2 separate regions of the Homo sapiens genome follow, and region 2 is linked to region 1. Evidence: fine-mapped expression QTL. A gene starts in region 1. The other region holds a variant in brackets. All regions are shown on one strand. Distances are from middle to middle.

Region 1 (9,706 bases):
CCAGGGGCTCAAGGTGGGGTCTTCTGGGCTCTTAGGCTGGCCCTGCCTCAGCCCGTGGAAGCCGCCCTGCAGCCTCCGCAGCACTAGGGATTGGTGGCTCCATGGGGTGAGCAAAGCGCATGGGGACCAAGTTGGGCAGGGCACCTGTGCCTGCCACACCATGTCAGAGGCCACAGGCCCCTGTGGCTATCCCTGGAGCAGTGGTCCCCAGCGGGCCTCTAGAGCTGAATGGTCCTCCCCAGGCTGAGAGGCTGCGGGCACAGCTGACCGTGGCCCAGGAGGGACTGGCCGCACTGCGCCAGGAGCTGCAGGGCGTCGAGGAGAGCCGGGAGGGGCTGCACAGGGAGGCCCAGGAGGCCCGCCGGGCGCTGAGTGACGAGGCCCGCGAGAAGGACGTACTGTTGCTTTTCAACAGCGAGCTGCGGGCCACCATCTGCAGGGCCGAACAGGAGAAGGCCAGGTATGGCGGCCACCCAGGAGCAGCTGGGGGTGCCCTGCAGCCTGCTGCCCACCCAGGCCGTAGGGAGGATGGGGCAAGGGGGCTAGGCAGGGGCGTCCTGTTGACTTGGGCCCCACTGATGGTGGGGTAGACATGCCAAGCAGGCCTCCCGCTGCCCAGTCCAAGAGGTCTGCAATGCTGGCCAGTGCGAGGGATGGCTGAGGACATGGACACACCTGTCCCTGCCCACAGGGAGTTCCCATCCAGCAGGCAAGATAGGTCACAGGTGGCCTCCAGGAGGTGGTGCAGAGCTGGGGAGCAGAGGGAGGCCAACGGCCTGGCTGGGGCTCTAGAAAGGCCCCTGTGGGGCAGCTGGGCAGGATGGCACAGCCCTCACAGCAGGTGGCAGAGGTACCAGGCTAGGCTGGATGTTGAGCGTCCGGGAGTGTGACAGAGAGGGGGAGACAGGGAGGGATGAGGTGAGGAGGGGCTGAAGAGGTGGATAGTGGACAGGGGCCATGCGGCCGGCACCGGGACCTGGGTGGACATATGTCTGTAAGGTGACAGGGAACCCTGCAGAGGCTGAGTTTGAGGACACTGTGCAGAGTCAAGACTGGGGCCAGTGCCTCACTAGGGGAGGCAGAGACCTGCTGGGCAGCTGTGCTGGCCCCACCAGGAGGTGCGGGGGCCCCAGCCTGTGGCACCCTCGTCAGTTTTAAGCGGTCCAAGGAGGAGAAGGAGCAGAAGCTGCTCATCCTGGAGGAGGCCCAGGCGGCGTTGCAGCAGGAGGCCAGTGCACTGCGGGCCCACCTGTGGGAGCTGGAGCAGGCAGGGGGGGACGCCCGTCAGGAGCTCCGGGAACTCCACAGACAGGTAGGGCGGCAGGGAGGGGTCAACATCCAACCAGGCACCCTCCCGCCTGGTGGGTCCCGGCTCCTCCCAGGGGAGCCCCCAGCCCTGGCCTTGCTGCCGCCTTTGAACCACTCTGTCCCCAGACTTTGGGCCACGCCCTGCTCAGGCTCACAGGGTCCCTGGTTGGGTCTGTCCCCATGGGGCACAGATGACAAGACTGGAGAGGGCAAAACCAGGAATGCTTTAGCGAGGAGGAAGGGAACCATGCCCAGCAGCACACGGAAGTATCCTACATGCAACACCTTCCGGCATGCACAGCAGCACACGGAAGTATCCTACATGCAACACCTTCCGGTGGCGCTCGGGAACTCAGGCAGGCTAGAGGGGAGGCCTGGCCTCTGCAGGGCAGGGTGCTGGCAAGCCGGGTCCCCCCAAGGCCTGGCTCCCTCCTGTAATGGCGGCCTCGGGGCAGTTGGGTCCAATGCACCCCAGCCACTGCCCACACTCCCTAATCAGTGCCCACCCCGCCCCACCTGAGCCTCCTCCTTGTCCCAGGTCCTCCAAGGAGGTTCCGAGGAGGTCCCAGGTAGGTGTCTACAGAGTGGCTGAGGGTGACAACTCCCAGGGCAAGGTCCTTTGGGGCACCTTAGCCCAAGCCTCCCTAAGTGTGGCCAGCTGCCCTCAAGGGACGTGTGAGCGGAGGCAGGAGGCAGGGAGGCTGCCTGGGTTCCAGCACAGAGACCAGTGACCCTGTCCGTGCGGCCCCACGCTCCCAGGTGAGGACACTGAAGGCCGAGAACCAGAGGAGGAGTGGAGAGGCCCATGAGCTGCAGGCGCAGTGCTCGCAGGAGGTGCTGGAGCTGCGGAGGCAGGCAGCCAAGGCAGAGGCCAAGCACGAGGGTGCCCGGAAGGAGGTGGGAGGGCTGCCTGTGGTCAGAAGGGAAGGAGCTGGGCGTCGGGGAGCAGAGGGAGGAGGCCCACCCCACTTCCTCACTGTCTCCCACGGGCGCACCCCAACATCCCTCCTACAGGTCCTGGGATTGCAGAGGAAGTTGGCAGAGGTGGAGGCCGCAGGGGAGGCCCATGGACAGCGGCTCCAGGAGCACCTCCGTGAGAGCCGGGGGGCTGAGCAGACCCTCCGAGCAGAGCTGCACAGTGTCACCAGGAAGCTGCAGGAAGCCAGTGGTGTGGCTGATGCTCTCCAGGCTCGCCTGGACCAGGCCTGTCACCGAATCCACAGCCTGGAGCAGGAGCTGGCCCAGGCTGAGGGTGCAAGGCAGGATGCGGAGGCCCAGCTGGGCCGGCTGTGCTCCACGCTCCGCCGTGGCCTGGGGCTCCAGAGACAGAGCCCGTGGGCCTCCCCGGAGCAGCCTGGTTCCCCCACCAAAGGTCAGAGTCCTCAGTGGAGGCAGGCGGGCCCCTCTCCCAGCTCAGTCCCTGGCCTGGCACCTCTCTTTCAGGCCTCACAACTCACACAGTGAGGGACTCGGACAGGCAATTGTAGGAACCTGTGGCCGTCTCCCCAACCTCCCATGGCTGGGGCAGCAGAGAGGAAAGGGGAAGGGCGTGTATCTGTCACTGTGTTCCTGTCCACGACCCCTCCGCTGTCACCTCCCGCAGGCTCCGACAGCTCCCAGGCTCTCCCTGGGCAACAGGGTACCAGCCCCCCAGCCAGGCCCCACTCGCCCCTCCGATGGCCCTCGCCCACACCCGGAGGCCGCAGCTCAGAGCTCATGGATGTGGCCACCGTGCAGGACATCCTGCGGGACTTTGTGCAGAAGCTCCGGGAAGCCCAGCGGGAGCGGGTAATGGGGGCTGGGGTCCTCCCGCCCACGGCGGCACCCCCCGGGGGTCTCTGGGAAGAACACCTGCTGTCCATCCATCCGCGCGTCCCTGGGTCTGAGGGTCAGTGTCCAGGCCGTCCTGTTTGTTGTGATAAACACCAGCACCACCATGGCCCCCAAGCCCAAGTGCCTTGGGTGGCTGGAGGCCGCCCCCTTCCTTATACCAGGCTGAAAAGCCCCTGGAGCCAGGCCCTGCTGTGACACCCACCAGGGCCCAGGGTAGGGCATTCTGCAACTCATGCCACCCCTGAAGAGCTGCCGGGGCTGGGCAACTGCAGGACAGAGCCAGCAAGCTCCCCTCAATGCTCCCAAAGACCCCTCCGGTGGGGCCAAGCTCCCCAGTGGCTGCTCCTGGCTTCAGGGCTCCCACAGAACCACCCGTGAGCGGCCCCCTCCCACCTCGCTGGATGACTCCAGTGGGCAGGACTGTGGGAAAGACAGAGGCAGGCCCTGAGCCCTGGCCAGGGTCCTCTGTGCACACTCCTTCCCTTCGGGCCCACCCTCCCACCGCTGCCAGCCCCAGGGGGCAGGGTCCCGTCTGCACTCAGCCCCAAGTCCCGCCAGGGGCAGCCCCTACCGGTCCCCCTGACCACAGGCTGTGGGCCGCCACCTGCCAGCTCTCCCACACCACACCTGTGCTTGAAACCTGGACCCTTTAGGCCGAGTCTCACTGGGCGCCTCCACCTCCCCAGGCCTGCAGGTCAGCGCAGCTTCCCAGTGTGATCACCTTCCCCGCACCTTCCCCGAGCCCACGGCCCACACCACCCACTGCCCTGCCCTGCACACCTGCAGGCCAGACCGTGAGCGGCCCCAGCTGGCCCCGACCCTCTAGCAGACACCTTGGCCCTCCACCCGCCCATTGGACTGCCCCCGCTGACCTCAGTCCTTCTGCCCAGGATGACTCCCGCATCCAGATGGCGACCCTGAGCAGCCGGCTGAGCGAGGCAGAGTGCAGGTGTGCCCGGGCCCAGAGCCGCGTGGGGCAGCTGCAGAAAGCCCTGGCTGAGGCGGAAGAAGGTGACCTCCCTTGCCCTGCCCCGCCCACCCTGGGAGTGGCTGTGAGAGTGGCACCACCATGTCCCCACTGCTGCCGGCTATAAGCTTTCAGTCCCTGGGGCAGCTCGGTGGGAAGGGAGCCTGGGGGCAACACCCAAACCACCAGGCCTGGCGAGGCTGGGTCAGCGCTTGGCATCGGAGTTCTCAGCAGCGACTTCCCCAGCACAGAGGAGTGACGTCCACAGGCCCATCAGGGCCCTCCCGATCCGGCCCCCAGCATCCTCTGCCCCCCTGCCCCACCCTGGCCTCCTGCAGTTCCCACTGGGGGCCTTTGCCCTGGCTGTGCCCTCTGCCTGGCACCCTCTCCCCCAGACAGCCACACGGCTCTCCCCGGGCAGGCCCTGCCCCTCGTCACCCCCTCAGAGAGGCCCCTTCCTTCTGCCCCCCACTGCCTCACACTCACGAGTTTCTCTGCTTATTGCCCCTCAATTAAAGGAAAGAGGCAGGAGGGAAGGATGGGTGGGAAGCCGGGACCCTGGGGCAGCCCCAGGACCCTTGAGCTGCAAGGATGGACCCCCACCTCCACGTGGGAGCCAGTCACTCAAGTCCACAGAGCCCTGCATTGCCTGCCTGTGACCTGGGAGGGGCATGGGGGCCCCTCAAGCCACCCTGCTTGCCCCACAGGCCAGCGCCGGGTGGAGGGCGCGCTGAGCAGCGCCCGGGCAGCACGTGCCCTGCAGAAGGAGGCGCTCCGCAGGCTGGAGTTGGAGCACCTGGCGAGCGTGCGTGCGGCAGGCCAGGAGAAGCGGCGGCTGCAGGTGGGGCAGGCGGCAGGGTGGGTCCCAGGTGGGGCACAAGAACAAGGCCTCTCGGTCACCCTCACACCCTGCAGGGAGGCCACAGGGCCGGGAGGTGGGAGAGAGGGGTCTGCAAGGGCTTCTGTGGGTGTTCGGGGCTGGAGCCAGCCCGGTGGGGCCCTGGGGCAGAGGTGCAGGCTGGGCTGTGGCAGGCGGCTTTGGGGTCATCGGGACTGGGGTCGTCCTTAGCAGAGCTGTCCTTACGGTGGTTCTAGCCCTTGTTTTACAGGTTGGGGAAACTGAGGACTTGGCCCTGGGGGCACAGCGAGTGGGGGGCAGAGCCCCAAGTCTAGGCCCTTTCTTCTTGCTGAGGCCACAGCGGCAGGCATGGGGCGGCCCTGGCCCAGCCTTGGGGCTCTTTATAGGGTCACACTGTCCTGCTCCAAGACCACTTTTCATTCCATGTGGCTCAGACACAGAAGGGGCCTCTCAGGAAGGGCTGAAGTCAGTGTCCCTACATGCCAGGCTTTGTGCTGGGGAGGTGCCCGCTGGGTCTGAGGTTTTCAGGTGAGGAGCCTGGGCCTGGAAATGGAACGGCCAGGCAGTGGTGGATGGAGGCCTGGCCCAGGCCTTGGTCCTCAGTGCTGGTGGGGAGCCCCAGGCCCAGCCAGCCCAGCCCCACAGGTCCAAGCAGCCCCCGGGGTGTCCTGAGATCCTCTTGTCAGGACTGGGCCAGGGGACAACTGTTCCGCTCCAGAGAGCTCCCTTGCAGGCCCCAGGGGCCAGAGAACAGCGTGCCTGGCTGAGGCTCCCCAGGGCAACTGCCCCCAGGCGTCCCTCAACCCATTCTGGAAAGAGGGGGCCAGCACAGTGCAGAGGAGACAGGGCACAGAGACCGGGGAGCCACTCCTCTCCAAGTGTCCCTCCAATGAGGGAGGCCTGGGTGAGCCATCAGGAGGGACGGCCTTGCAGGTTGGCAGAAAGGCCCCAAGGGCAGCCGGCCAGGCCTGTGCTGTTCCACGCGGGGCTCAGCCCCGGAGCCTGGTGGCCCTCAGAGGCCACCAGAGGGCTGTCAGCACTCAGACTAGCAGGCAGGCTCTGAGTTCCCAGTAGGCCCTGAGCCTCTGAGGAGGTGGCTTCTGCAGGGGAGAGGGGAGGGGGCAGAGAGCAGAGGCCAGGCTGCAGAGAGAGCAAGGTCCTCATTAGCCAGCAGTTTGGAAATTTCTGTTTTGGAAAGACCCTTCTGGTGACAGCTGCTGGGGCAGTAAGACTAGAGACGTCTGTGGAAAGACCCAGGCGGCCTGGCCAGGGATGGGGTCAGGACTTGTGAGATGCCCAGGAGATGGGGGCACCTGAGAAGTCAGGGGACCTGGAGCGGGCTGAGTTGGGCCAAGTTTCATTTTATGTGTATAGTCACATGTATGTCTCCCACATGCATGCAGAAATAACGTGCTCTGCTCACAGGTTACACATTTTGAAAGAGACCTTCTATTTTATTTTATTTTTTGAGATGGAGTCTCATTCTGTCACCCAGGCTGGAGTGCAGTGGCACCATCTTGGCTCACAGCAACCTCCGCCTCCCAGGTTCAAGTGATTCTCCTGCCTCAGCTTCCCAAGTAGTCGGGATTACAGGCACCCGCCAATACACCTAATTTTTTTGTATTTTTAGTAGAGACAGGTTTCACACCATGTTGGCCAGACTGGTCTTGAACTCCTGACCTTAAATGATCTGCCTGCCTCAGCTTCCCAAAGTGCTGGGATTACAGGTGTGAGCCACCGTGCCCAGTTCTGAAATACACCTTTTAAATCAACCTTTACAAATGCATTATTCAAATAGGCCACATTTGATCCAGTTCCTGAATTTATCAAAACTAAGGATGATGTGTTGAATTTTCCCACTACAATTCTTTTTGTCAATGTCTCCTTTTATTTCCAAGGGTATTTGACTTCTAGATTTCTTGACTCTTCGAATTTGAAGTTTCTCGGTTAACTTTTCCTGAGTGGCCTGCATGTCCTGTGACTGCTGTTTGTCTTCCTCTTGGCCTCTGCTTTTTTGGTGTTTGTGGTTTCAGCCTTCATTTCATCAGCCTGGCTCTGGTTTCAATCTCACCTTAGAGTCTCTGCCTCTTCTGGGGGAATTTGTCCCATGTAGAAGTTTTGTGGTAACCCATGCTCTGTTTTTCCTTAGGTTGTTCATAGGACACTTTCTCCTTTCCGTGTGTCTTTCCTGCCTGTCCTGTCTTGCATGGCAGGGATGATTTATTCATCCTCTTTTCCCTTAGCATTTGCATCCAGGGCATCTTATGGCTGGGCCAGGACAGCGCCCTGCCCCCTCCAGGGGCCGAGGGTCTTGTCCCTTCCCTTCCCAGCTGCACTGCTTCCACCTGCGCCCTAGGAGCTAAGACTTTTGCTCCTTAGAATTTCCTGCTCTGGACAATCCCCTCTTCCAAACCTGCTCCCCAGGGGGGCTCTGGGCTCTCCTGCCTGTAGGTTGAACTTCTCTTGGTGTCTGTGGACCCCAGGGCTCTCTACCCACAGCAGCCCACACCTGGTGCACTACTTTTTGCAACAAATTACTGATGACTTAACCCCACTTTTGAGCCCCCAGTCCCATAGGTGAGAAGCCTGGCATGGTGTGACTGGCGTCTCCCCTCTGGGTCTCACAGTCATGGGGTAGGCTGGGCCACCCGAGGCCACGGGGAAGAGTCCTCCTCTGGGTTCATCCAGGTGCTTCTGGGGGCATCCGGGCTCATCCCAGCGTGGCGAGTCCAGCTCTTTGCGTTGTCGGGCTGAGCCTCATTTCTGTGCGGTCGGCCAAGGGCTCCCCACTCCTAGCCAGGGGCTTCCTTGGCTGTGCCACAGTGTGGCAGCAGCACCTGCACCCCACGCCCCCCATCTCCACGTGCCTCACACCTCATGGCTCCCTTCTGCCGACACCCGAGGGTGTGCGTGAGTGGGTGAGACCCACCTGGGTGGTCACCCTTTGCTTAACTCAGAGTCAACTCTTCACATCCACAAAGTCCCCTGGCCATGAATCCAACGTAATCACAGGATAACGTCAGGGCCAGAGCTCACAGGGCCCTCTGAGGGCTCTGCCTGCCACGTGGGTCCGAGCAACATGTTACCAGCTTTGGTGAACTCCATGCCGCTGGTTTGATGGGTGGGGCCGCTCATGGCATCTCTCCTGGAGGGGCCTGGCTTTCATTCGATTCCAGGCTCCTTGTTTGCCTCTGACCTTGAGTTCAGATGGGTTCAAGAAATGTGCGGATTCCCTGGGTTCTTTGTGTTTTTCTTGTCAGTGCTCTTTCCAGAGTGGCAGCCAGAGGCCTCCTTGTTTTTGAAATTCAAAAATGTCACCAAAATGTGGGCGTGTCGGCCCCTTTCATTATTTTTACCTACCCCGGCAAACCCTCCCTACTTGCAGAATCAAATCTACCTTCTGTTTACAGAGGTTCCTTCCACTGTAAAAAAAACATCTCTTCTCCTTCTCCCTCTTCTCTGTTCTTTTGTCCTGGAATTCTCAGCATCCCAATACTGATCCCCTGGACCTGTCCTCCTGGCTTCAATCTTGAATTTCTCCTTGTCATCTCGGTTTTCCCCAAGGTCCCAGGAGAATTTCAGGTCTTACTCCTACTCAGCTAATCTCAGGATCTGCCGCATCTCGTCTGCTGCTCCTGTCCCCACGGTGGCCTCGTTCGGCCTGAGTTTTCATTTTGGATTGTCCACCTCAAGACCCCTGCCCTGTCCTCACCTTGAGAACACTAGTTACCATCTTCTGGTGTGTGTCAGTAGCTCACTTCTCTGTTTAATTAGAGACTCTCAGATCTGATTCCTCAGATCGACTTTATTTTCTCAAACCCCAGTGGATACTAGTTTTGTGATTTTTTTCCTTTGCGTGTCTTTAAAGAAAGGAGTTCTGGCCTCGTTTGAAGTTGGGAGTGGAGAGGAACCCATCAGGGACTTTATGTGTCCCCATCCAAATATTTCAGGCTCAAAAGAAAGGCAGAGAGAAGGGTTCCAAGATCCTGCAGCCACAGGGAGCCATGGGGAATATGGGGAGCCAGCAGTGGAGTTCTGGCCCTCCCGGAGCTGTTCTGTTCCTGAAGTGGGCGGGGTGGGAGCGGCGCTCTCCGGTGCACGGTCACGGTGCGGTCCTCCACCTCCCCAGCTGCTTGCCTCACAGGGATGGAGGGCTCCCCGGGTCCCCCAGCCACAGCAACCCTCTTCCCTGAGGTCCTGGTAGTACAGAGTTGCCTCCCCAACACCCCTGCAGCTCCCTCCAGCCCTCGCCCTTCTGAGTCAGGGTATGGGGACATGGGGGTCCAACTTTGGGTCTCCACAATGAGTGCAGAGGACGTCTCTGACATTGACCAGACCTTTGTCTGTATGCATTTTTCTGCTTGGTCTAGAATTTGCTCAACTTTTTTAGTGAAATGTGCTAAAATCTATCATTATGGTGTCAACGTTTTCTTACAATTCTGGCAATTATTATTTCACCCATTTTTAGGCCAAGTTGGTCTCATCTGCCCTCGGGAGTCCTCCAAGTCCCTGGTCTCCAGCTCTGAGGAAAGTTTTTCCCAACTTTTTGTAATCTATGAGTCATTGTGATAGGTTTCTGGATTCAGACACACCTAAGTCACCAGAGGCCCCCGCTTTTGACACACAGCAAACCCAGGCAGAGAGCTCAGGGTTGAAATTTTCTAGCCAGCCAGGGGGCTGGGAACATAGCCATGCTCCCTGCTGCCCCATGCCCCTTGCTGAGCAGGGGGGTGCTAGGG
Region 2 (9,706 bases), 66 kb before region 1:
ACTTCCTGGTGCTTGGAAGCCCCTATGAGGGGCTGCAGCCCAGTGAGCGGGTCTCTGCTTCCATGCCTCCCAGGACAGGGAGCTCACCACCTCACAGGGTAGCCCACGGTCAAGCGAGAGACAGATATCCCTCCTCCAAGCTGGCCCACTCCTGTTCCCTGGAGTTGCTTAGAGCACGTGTCCCCCTCCCCGAGGGCAGCCATTCAGGTTCAAGGCCCCATTTGTCCTGGGCCCTCACCCACGGCCTGCCTAGGTCCCCACACACAGCCGTGTGCCACACTCCTCCATCTCCACAGGACTCTGGCCTGGGGGAGGTGGACGCTGCTGCAGGGCAGCTGGGGTCCTACCCCTCACCCTCGGCCGCAGTGGCCCAGGGAGCTCATCTGCCTGTTCTGGGCCTTGGCTTCAACATCTGTGATTTGATGACACCTTCAGTGTCCCAGCTCCTCCTTCCCAGGAACCTCCCGGTGTTCTGAATTCGCCCAGGAGACCCCCAACCACACCCCAATCTACCCAAAGTGCCCAGGGGCTCTGAGCCATGGGAGGGGCTCGGCTTCTCAGCCCCCAAGCTGCTCCCTCCAGTGGCCACAGAGCAGGGCCCTTCTCCCTCGGGAGCGGCCCCCAGGCTTTGCATCCTCCTTTGCCCCTAAAGCCCCCTCTCCACTGCTGTCAACACCAAGAGCACAAGACCATGTCCCCCCTTTCCTCTCTTCAGCAGGGGATTCCACCTGGCTGACACCCTGTCCTGTCCTTCGCTGGCTCTGGCCTCCTGGCTCCCACCAGTTCCTGAGCTGAATCCAGCTGGTTGCCCCAAGGGACCCCACTCTCTCCACCTGTGCCCCAGCTGAGGTCAGAGCCTCTGATGGGCCAGGCCCCATCCTTGCCCCTTGGCCCTTCTGGCAGGTGGTGAATGACATGGTGAGCTCCCTATGGCTGGAACGGTGTCACACTCCTCAGTGTACCCTAGAGCCAGGCACGATGCCAGGCACACAGGAGCATGTGGAGTACACCAGGGAACTGTGGACAAGCAAAGGTCCCCGGGAAGCTGGACCTGTGGGAGAGAGAGGAGAGCCGCTGCTGACGGAGGGGATGCGGGCACCCGCCCTGGACGGCTGGGCAGCTTTGACCACAAAGGGGCCAAGTGCTCCAGAGGCCTTCAGGCAGCCACTAGCCACAGTGCACCCAGGACTCCAACTCTGACCCCAGGAGGGTAGCGTGGTGAGGGTGGGGAGGGTCAGAGAAACCAGACGTGTCCTGGGGCCTTGGCAACTCAAGAAGGGGTTCCTTGGCACCTGTGGCAACCGCAAATGCTCAGATGGGTGTTGATTCAGTCTCTCAGTAGAGCTCAGGGCCAGAGCACGGATCCTGTATTTCAGGAAGTCCCGGATGTGCTGGGAAAGGCGGGGTGGGAAGCAGACATTCCGGCCTGAACAGAGTCCCAGGGCTGAACCTAGGGAAGCAACAGGGGCACACCCTGAGCCGTGGGGGCTCCACGCAGCTGCAGCCCACAGCAGGGGCATGTTTCCAGGGGTGCGACAGACCACGGCGGAGGTAAAATGACAGAAGTGAATTCTCACAGCTCTGGAGGCAGACGTCCAAGAGCATGGTGTTGTGTGGCTGGGCTCCCTCCGGAGGCTCCAGGGAAGCGCAGCTCCCACCTCTCCCAGCTCCAGTGCAGCCGCGTTCCTTGGCCACGTCTCTCCATCTCCGTCCTCACGTGGCCCTCTCCTGTGGGCAGCTGTGCTATCTCTTTCTGCTTCTCTTACAAGGACACTGGGGAGACCATTTAGGGCCACCAGGCCGTCCCAGATGATCTCATCCCATAGGCCTCCCACAGTTCAGTCTGTTACCACGTAAGATCTCAATTCACCCACGGTTCAGTCTGTTACCGTGTAAGGCCACACTCTCTCCTGTGCTTTATAAGGTCCTGTTCACAGGTTCTGGGGACTAGGAGGTGGCTGTTCCTCAGCCAGCTACGGTCAGCAGCCCCCATACCACCGCGTGCCAGGAGCCCTGCCAGGGCGCTGCCTGCAGGGACCCTGTGCTTGCTGCCCCTCCCCTAGCCCAGCCACCTGTTTGGGAACAGTGGGCACAGCTCTGTGCAGCCTCAGGCATGCAAAAGCAACCAAGACAGGAGTCTCCAGCCGAGGTCTACACCAGCCACCAATGCCTGCAGTACTCCGGGAAGGAGACCCTTCTTCTGCATCGGGCCCTTCTCTCCAGGACACTGTGGTCCGATTCAGCCAAGGTGCCCAGAGTACCTGCCAGGCCTGCTCAGGCTTAGGTGCGGATGCAGAAAAGTCAGACTTGAGCAGACGAGCTTGGCACCATGGTGTGGCCTGAGCAAGTCGCTGCCCCGCCTGGGCTCCAGGTCCTCAACGGACAGTGAGGAGTCCACAGGAGACAGACTCTCAGACAGAATCCAGCCGCCCAGCGCCCAGACGCCCTTTACGCAGATGCCTCTGCGGGGAAGCAGCTTCCGTGCTGACATGAGCAGTCTGGACTTCAGGATAAAGCTGCAATGCTCACCACGAGGGACAAACCCGCGTCCTGACGCCCAGAGCACATGCCCGGCCCCTGCGGCCTCCCCTTCATGGCCTAACTCTGCATCAGGGTGGCGAATAAAATGCAGGACGCCCAGCTGTTAGGATTAATCTGAAGTTCAAATCTAATTTGCATGGCACACAAACATTTATTGTTGTTGATCTGGAGTTGGAATAGAACAGGGATCCCTGTATTTCCACTGCTAAGCCTGGCAGCCCCCCTCGGAGCAGCACTGAGCGGTAGGGGTGAACCCCCGCTGGGAGGAGCAAAGCAAAGAAGCAGGGGCTGGGGGAGGAAGGAGGTGATGGGCAGTTACGCCCCAGGTGGACGGAGATGGCTGGGGAACAGTCAGGTGTGTGGCGGGGTGGGTGGGGTCGTGGGCTGGGGGCTACTTTGGACCACCCTGAGGAGCTGAGCCGCATGGGGCTGAGGGCGGGCTGATCCCTCACCTGGAAAATCCAGTGGGGAGCAGACATTGGAGCAGACTCATTTTTCTGAGGCAGGCTCAGCCCAGGACAGGGGTTGGGCAGGTGTCCCGGGGAGAAGGAAGCTCGACGGCACAGGGGTGGGTGGAGGGCGGTGTGAGAGAGGGGAAGGGGGTGTTCTCTCAGTGGTGGCATGGAGACCGCTCACCTGGGCACACGGGGACACCAGCTCCGTCTGTCCGGGGCTCCAGTCGCCAGCTCAGGGCCAGACCACAGGCTGCAGCTCCCCTGGAACGTGCAGCTGGGTGGGGGAACCCTCTAGGTCTCCCCAGGTGCTGGCCACAGTGGGTTTTGTTTTGCTTGGTGGTTGGCGTTTTAGTTTTTTACATTTTGGTAAATAAACATGACTTTTACCATCTTGACCACCTTTAAGTGTGTGGCTCAGCGCCATGAAGAACATTCGTGTTGCGGCGCGGCCATTGTCACCGTCAGTCTCCAGAGCTCGTCTCATCTTCCAGGCTGAGACTCTGTGCCTGCTCCACACTGACTCCTGCCCCTCCCCCAGCCCCTGGCTCTCACCATACTACCTTCCGTTTCTAGGGCTTGGAGCGCTCCTGGGACCTCAGGTAAGCGTCGGCCTTAGCAC[G/A]CGCTTATTTCACCTGGCGTTATATCCTCAGGGTTCTTCCAGATTGTGGCATGTGTGAGAATTTCCTTCCTTTTAAAGGCGGAGTAATGTTCCACGGTGGGGACGGACCACATCATCTGTGAACAGACACCTGGGCTCCTTCCACCATCGGCTGCAGTGCAAATGCTGCTATAAACACAGGGGTATGAATATCTCTTTGAGTCTCTGCTTTCAGTTCCTTGGGGTATATGCCCAGAAGTGGGTTCCTGGATCATATGGGAACTCTGTTTAATTTTCTGAGGATTTGTCACACCATCGCCACTGCAGTGCACGAGAGCCCTGGCTTCTCCACGTCCTCCCCAGCACTCATCCTCTGCGTTCTGGGTAAGAGCCATCCCAGGGGTTGTGAAGTGCTGACGTGCTGTGGTTTTTGATTTGCATTTCTCGGATGAGGCGACTCTGAGTGTCTTTCACATGCCTGTTGGCCATGTGTGTATCTTCTTTGGAGAAACGTCTGTTCAGGTCTTTCGCTCATTTTTAATTGTGTTGTTTGTTTTCTTGTTGTTGGGTTGTAGGAATTCTTTTTTTTTTTTTTTTTTTTTTTTTTTAGACAGAGTCTCCCTCTCACTCAGGCTGGAGTGCAGTGGCGCCATCTCGGCTCACTGTAACCTCTGCCTCCCAGGTTCAAGCAATTCTCATGCCTCAGCCTCCTGCGTAGCTGGGATGACAGGCGCACGCCACCAGGTCCAGCTAATTTTTTTGTATTTTTTTAGTAGAGACGGGGTTTGGCCAGGCTGGTCTCGAACTCCTGACCTCAGGTGACCTACCTGCCTTGGCCTCCCAACATGCTGGGATTACAGGTGTGAGCCACCACGCTTGGCCAGAATTCTTTATAAATTCTCAATACTAATCCCCTATCAGATATAAAATTGGTAAATATTTTCTCCCATTCTGTGGGTTTTCACTTTCTTCATAGCATCCTTTGATGCACAAGTTTTCAATTCTGATGCAGTTCAATTTATCTATTTTTTTCTTTCATTGTCTGTGCATTTGATGTCATATCCAAGAAATCACTGCCAAATCCTGTGTCATGAAGCTTTTGCCTACATTTTCTTCTAAGCTCTGTATGGCTTGGGCTCTTACCTTTGGATCCCTGGGCAGGCCAGTAGCCCCAAGCCTCCTCTGGTCCCCAGGCAGGAGGTCCCTCCCCAGGCACCTTTCTTCACTGTGCTGTGGTATTCAGCCTCTGCCACGCTGACAGAAAGCACCAGAGAGCAGGGTCCCCAGGCAGCCCTGCAGCCTCTCCCAGGACCCAGGTCCCCCAGGGCCTGCCACGGCAGCATCCACCGGCAACCCCTCACGTGGATAAACACAGGGTGGGTGAAGAGCGAGGTCTTCTCTCCCACCCCACAGAACCTCTCAGGACCTGCCTGCGCCCACAACCATCTGGATGCCCCCTAAAACCCAGCACATGTATCCAGCTGGCCTCTCCTCTCAGGAGAGTGGAAAAGACCTTGAAAATCACACCAAATGCATTGTTCTCCCGCATCAGACCACTTGCCTCACCAGCCACCACCCCTGCCCTCAGCTGGCCTCCTGTCCACGCCCGACAGATGGGGGTGGGACGGTGCCACTCGGCTGCTGTGTGCAGAATGGGGTGGCACTTCCATGCCCTCTGAAGAAAGTTCATGTGCAGGGCAGCTCTGCAGAGAGGGTAGGCAGTGGACAGAATGTGGCGCCCTCTGTCCCAGCCTCACAGCCTCCAGGGCTGCCCGTCCTGCCGTAATCACACTGGGATCTTTCCTGCCTTCCATCACTGTCTCAGCTCATTCAGTGACTCTGCACCCCCCAGGGCCAGCGTCTCCTCCTCAGAGCCAAGTCCACACCTGGCAGAGTAGACTGTCTGAGAGGACAGCCAGTGACTGCTCAAGAGGAGTGGCTCCATAGCTCCCCGGGGCTGACCTGGGTCACAGCCTCTTTGGGTTCTGTCCGAGGCACATCCCCTGCTGGTGCTAGACAGGAAAAGACACCCATGGCCGGCTGTGTGGGTGCCTGGCGGCCAGAGTGTCTGTGCCTGCTCATCATCGGTTCCTGTGTCCCCATGTGGGCCCAGCACAGCCAGGATTAGGGACTGTCCCCAAGGAGATAAGGCTGTAACTCCTTATCTCCTTGATAAGGAGATACAACGTTATCCTTGATAAGGATAAGCAAGGTTTCCTGTTTCAAGGGAACAATGACAAAACCGGTGATGGCGTATCTACAGACAGGTGTTCCTCTGAGCCCAGGAGGGTTCTTCCTCAGCCTCCAAAGCCAGGCAGGTGGGGCAGGACAAGGAGGACCGCATCTAGAATGGCCATGGGTGCCGAGTACTTTCCCCAGTCCCAGGGAGGGAGGCGTGAGGTCCAGAGAACAAGAGCTCAACCCCCATCAGGCTGTGGGTCAGGACTGGGCAGGGCCCCCCGAGCCCCGCCCTCCCGAGAGCCCACCCCACAGAACGCCTGCACTCAGGGAGGACCCTCTATCCCATCCTCCACTGTCCCAGGGCGTTCCCCGGGGGGCCCAGCCAGGCTCCGGCCAAGGCCTACCCTGTGGGTTCTTCTAGTCTAGCCATGGCCCTGGTCTGGGAGCCCCATAATGGACACCCCGCAGTGAGGCCTTGGGGGGCATGCACGGGGCTGGGCCAGCCCTCGCGCCCTGGAAAGGCATCCTGGGGGGACTCCGGGCCACCGCCGGCAGGCGTGGGCTTTCCTGTACAGACACAGGGGGGCAGGGTTAAGGGGGAGAAGCAGCAAAGGGGGAGAAGTGGAAAAGAAACGAGGATGCGTCCGGTGGAGCAGCCAGGACCCCAAGGCTAAGAGGAGGTGGGCGGCAAGGAGGGCCTGCCTTGGGTCAGGGCCCCACCAAGAGGAGGGACCAACCTTCATGGTTCACCAGGACTCTCCCAGGAAATCCCTCCTCCGTGGGCAAACCCTGCAGTGACTGAGGAAAAGGGGCACGGGAGGACATCTGGGAAAATCATGGACTTGGAGCTGCCGCAGGCGGGGGAGGCTGAACTGCAGGCGGCCACGCCCACCCCAGATGGCACAGAGGCTCCAGGCGATGCCCACCTGGACCGACAAAATCCCATCCTCACGTTTGGTCTCGTCCAGGGCAACTCCACAGCCAGAAGGAACTTTCTAAAACTCAGACAGGCCGGGCGCAGTGGCTCACGCCTGTAATCCAGCACTTTGGGAGGCCAAGGCGGGAGGATTGCTTGAGGTCAGGAGTTCAAGAGCAGCCTGGTCAACATGGTGAAACCCCATCTCTACTAAAAATACAAAAATAAGCTGGGCATGGTGGCGAGTGCCTCTAATCCCAGCCACTCTGGAGGCTGAAGCAGGAGAATCACTTGAACCTGGTGGGGGGAGGTTGCAGGGAGCCAAAATAGGGCCACTGCACTCCAGTCTGGGAGACAGAGCGAGACTCCATCTCAAAAATAAATAAATAAATAAAAATAAAATTAAACACAGATGGGAGCCCCTGCCCACCAGCCCTCCTGAGAGCCGTCACCTGCAGAGGCCACAGGGGGTGTCTCCACCTGGCTGGGCCCAGTGCACGTCACCTTTGGCCTGGATGTACGGCTTCAGGTCAGGGTGTCTCTCCAACACCCCGACTCAGGCCACCGGGCCGCCCCTGAACATGGGCATCTGTGTCAGGACTGACACAGGACTTGCTTCTGGCATATGAGGTCTTATCTCCACCTATCCAAGAGGCCCGCATGGGAGATCACACTAGCCTCCCAGCCACTCCCCACCGTTCACAGGTCCACACGGATGCCCCTTCCTCACTCCACCCGCCCTGCCCCCAGCAGGAACTCTCACCAGAGGCCAGGGCCACACCCTCTAAGCCCTGACCCACCTCAGGGGAGTTCAGCGGAGCCCCAGCAGGAAACGCTGCCCCTCCCCACTCAGGCTGAGGCATGGAGGGCAGGACTCTCCATGGCCACAGGGCCTCCCAGGACTCTGAGGGTGGGCGACCGGCAGTCTTGGGTCCCTGGGGGATCTGGAGGCTGCTCAGGGAGGGGCCTAGCCCATGGAGTGGGTGTCCTCAGTCTGGACCTGAAGCCAGAGGTCATGCTTGGGCCAGAAGCACGAGGTTCGGAAGGACTGACCAGGCCCCTGGCACCCCAGGGACTGTCCAGTGAAGCCCAGCCCGGATGCCCATGGGGCCATGTCTGGCCAGAGAGCCTGGCCTGTCCCTGCAGGGCCACCCTGGAGGTTGTCCTCAGGAGTGGGGGTGAACAGAGCACAGGTGTTTCTCTGGGAGGGCTCCTTTTGAGTACAGGTGCCTCTGCTTCTTGAATTTCGCCTCTGAGGAGGTGGCCTGGGCCCTCAGCCCCTCTCTCGGCAGCCCCAGGGACAAACATGCTGGTCCCCCAAGTTGGCATCCACCTCCACTGCCCGGGCCCCTGTGGCCTTGCTGGGCAGGCTGCCTCCCGGTCTCCTGGGCTGGCTCCAAGAACCTGGGTCTCTGAGAGACTCGGAGATGTACCCATCCCCAGAGGCCCCTGAACAGGGCAGCCTTTCATGGGAGGGCAGCCACTCCTGCTGCAGGGCCCACCTCTGCGGCTGTCCCTTCCCCAGAGGGACTCCTGCCAGCATCAGCTCAAGGAGGTCCCAGCTCAGAATGAGGAGCCCCAGAGGGAGTGGAATGGGGCGGAAACGCTGGCATGGCTGCCTGCCAGGCACCTGACTTCATCTGAGGCCCCAGGAGGCCCAGACTCCGAGCCACAGAGCTCTGCGTCTGTAGGGACAGCCGGCCTGGGGGTGGCAGGCATGGCCCTGCTTCCCTCCCATTGCCCCACCTATGGGAAGCTGCCCTGCCCTGGCATCCAGACAGCCCCTGGCAGCCCCTGGGGTGGGAAGCCGTGGGCAAGTTCTGCAGACCCTCCACCACGCATGCTGACCAGGGACTTCTCCCCTTCGGACAGGGTGGCTGGTGGTCCTTTCCGATTCCACAGGGTGGGAAACAGTGCAGGTTCCCAGGGCAAGGGTGGACCCATGGGCAGGTGACTCTGAAGGGCTCTAGCGGGAGTCAGACTCCAGAAGGACTCACAGGTGCAAGGCCAGGAAGACAAGATTCCTTTGCCCCTCAGGCAGGCAGCGTCCCTCTCCAGGTCTCAGTCCACCACCTGCGACGACCACTACGTTCTTTGACAAATGTTTTTCAAAAGTCATAGTTTATGAGTCCAGATGAAGGAAGACCAGTGCTCTGCATGCTGCCTCTGCCCACCGTGTGTCCAGCAAGCACACGGCTCCCCCTGGAGCGAATGCGGGAGGGGGTGTCTGGGGGAAAGGCCAGCCCCTCCCAGGTGCCGTTGCTCAGGTAGACAGTTTTACCCAGGGCGTCTCCAGGTCTCCAGGCAAAACTGCTTCCAGCCAACAGCGTTCCTTTGTCCCCACAGCAACAGGGTCCTGCACTCCTGTTTCCAGGGAAACCCAGCTCTCAGCGTCCCGGTTGCCACAGCAATGCCTACGGGCTCAGCTGGCCATACTGTCTTACCCACAGGGCAAGAGCAACTGGGTGCCCAGGCTCGGGACACAAGACTGCAGAGCCAGGTGCCACACAGGTGTGGGGCCCGTGGACCAAGGAAGACCCTGGCCAGTTGGAGGAGAACTGCCAGGTAGCAAAGCCCAGACTTCTCTGGGGTCCTGCGCTCTGGGCTGCAATGAGCTCTGCCTCCAGTGAGCCTGGCAATGGGGACGCCTCCCAACAGCCCCTACTGGGGCTGGACACCGTGATCCAGGTCAGTGGGGTGGTCACTTCCCTGCACCCTCCTGAGAGCAGGTTGCCAGGACACTTTGGAAGGGACGCGGCAAAGAGAGGGGATGGCCAGGAGGCACCTTCCTGGCTCCCGGGGCACTTTCCACTTGCTCACGTGTTTGCCTTGAGCGTGCAGCCAGTCACGGATGCAAGCAGGCGCGCCTGCATGCACACACAGGCAGCCTTCAGCCAGGAGAGAGAGCCTGGGGAGAGAGGGCCCAGGGCCGCTGCTGGCTATAGACATTCAGGTGGCCGGTGTCCCTTGCAGCCACAGGTTTGCGGGGTGGAGAGAGAGCCCGGGGCCGCTGCT

Alleles and levels. Alleles are on the strand shown, and positions count from the first base shown. SD is a standard deviation of normalised expression in the study named.
For the expression in stomach of the gene that starts at base 4,138 in region 1, A is the high allele of the variant in region 2 and G is the other (small effect, 0.35 SD a copy in GTEx).

What was found. PIP is the estimated chance that this variant, and not a neighbour inherited with it, causes the effect. A credible set is the group of variants that fine-mapping cannot tell apart.
Region 2: its variant is the best candidate, but not a certain one, in a credible set for the expression of UICLM in stomach (GTEx, PIP 0.55).

The regions. Positions count from the first base shown.
Region 1 is chr2:240,963,314-240,973,019 of GRCh38, forward strand. It overlaps UICLM (up-regulated in colorectal cancer liver metastasis), which reads right to left and starts at 4,138. Exons shown (of 9, transcript NR_033841.1): 1 at 4,014-4,138; 2 at 676-863; 3 at 1-433. It overlaps CROCC2 (ciliary rootlet coiled-coil, rootletin family member 2), which reads left to right. Exons shown (of 32, transcript NM_001351305.2): 21 at 243-460; 22 at 1,153-1,312; 23 at 2,068-2,205; 24 at 2,323-2,680; 25 at 2,912-3,096; 26 at 4,032-4,152; 27 at 4,816-4,949. RefSeq lists an enhancer at 1-157.
Region 2 is chr2:240,897,213-240,906,918 of GRCh38, forward strand. CROCC2 (ciliary rootlet coiled-coil, rootletin family member 2) reads left to right here and starts at 9,124. Exons shown (of 32, transcript NM_001351305.2): 1 at 9,124-9,379. The coding sequence starts at 9,302. RefSeq lists enhancers at 1-115, 4,964-5,465, 5,466-5,965, 7,777-8,277. The variant G/A (reference allele first, on the strand shown) is at 3,616.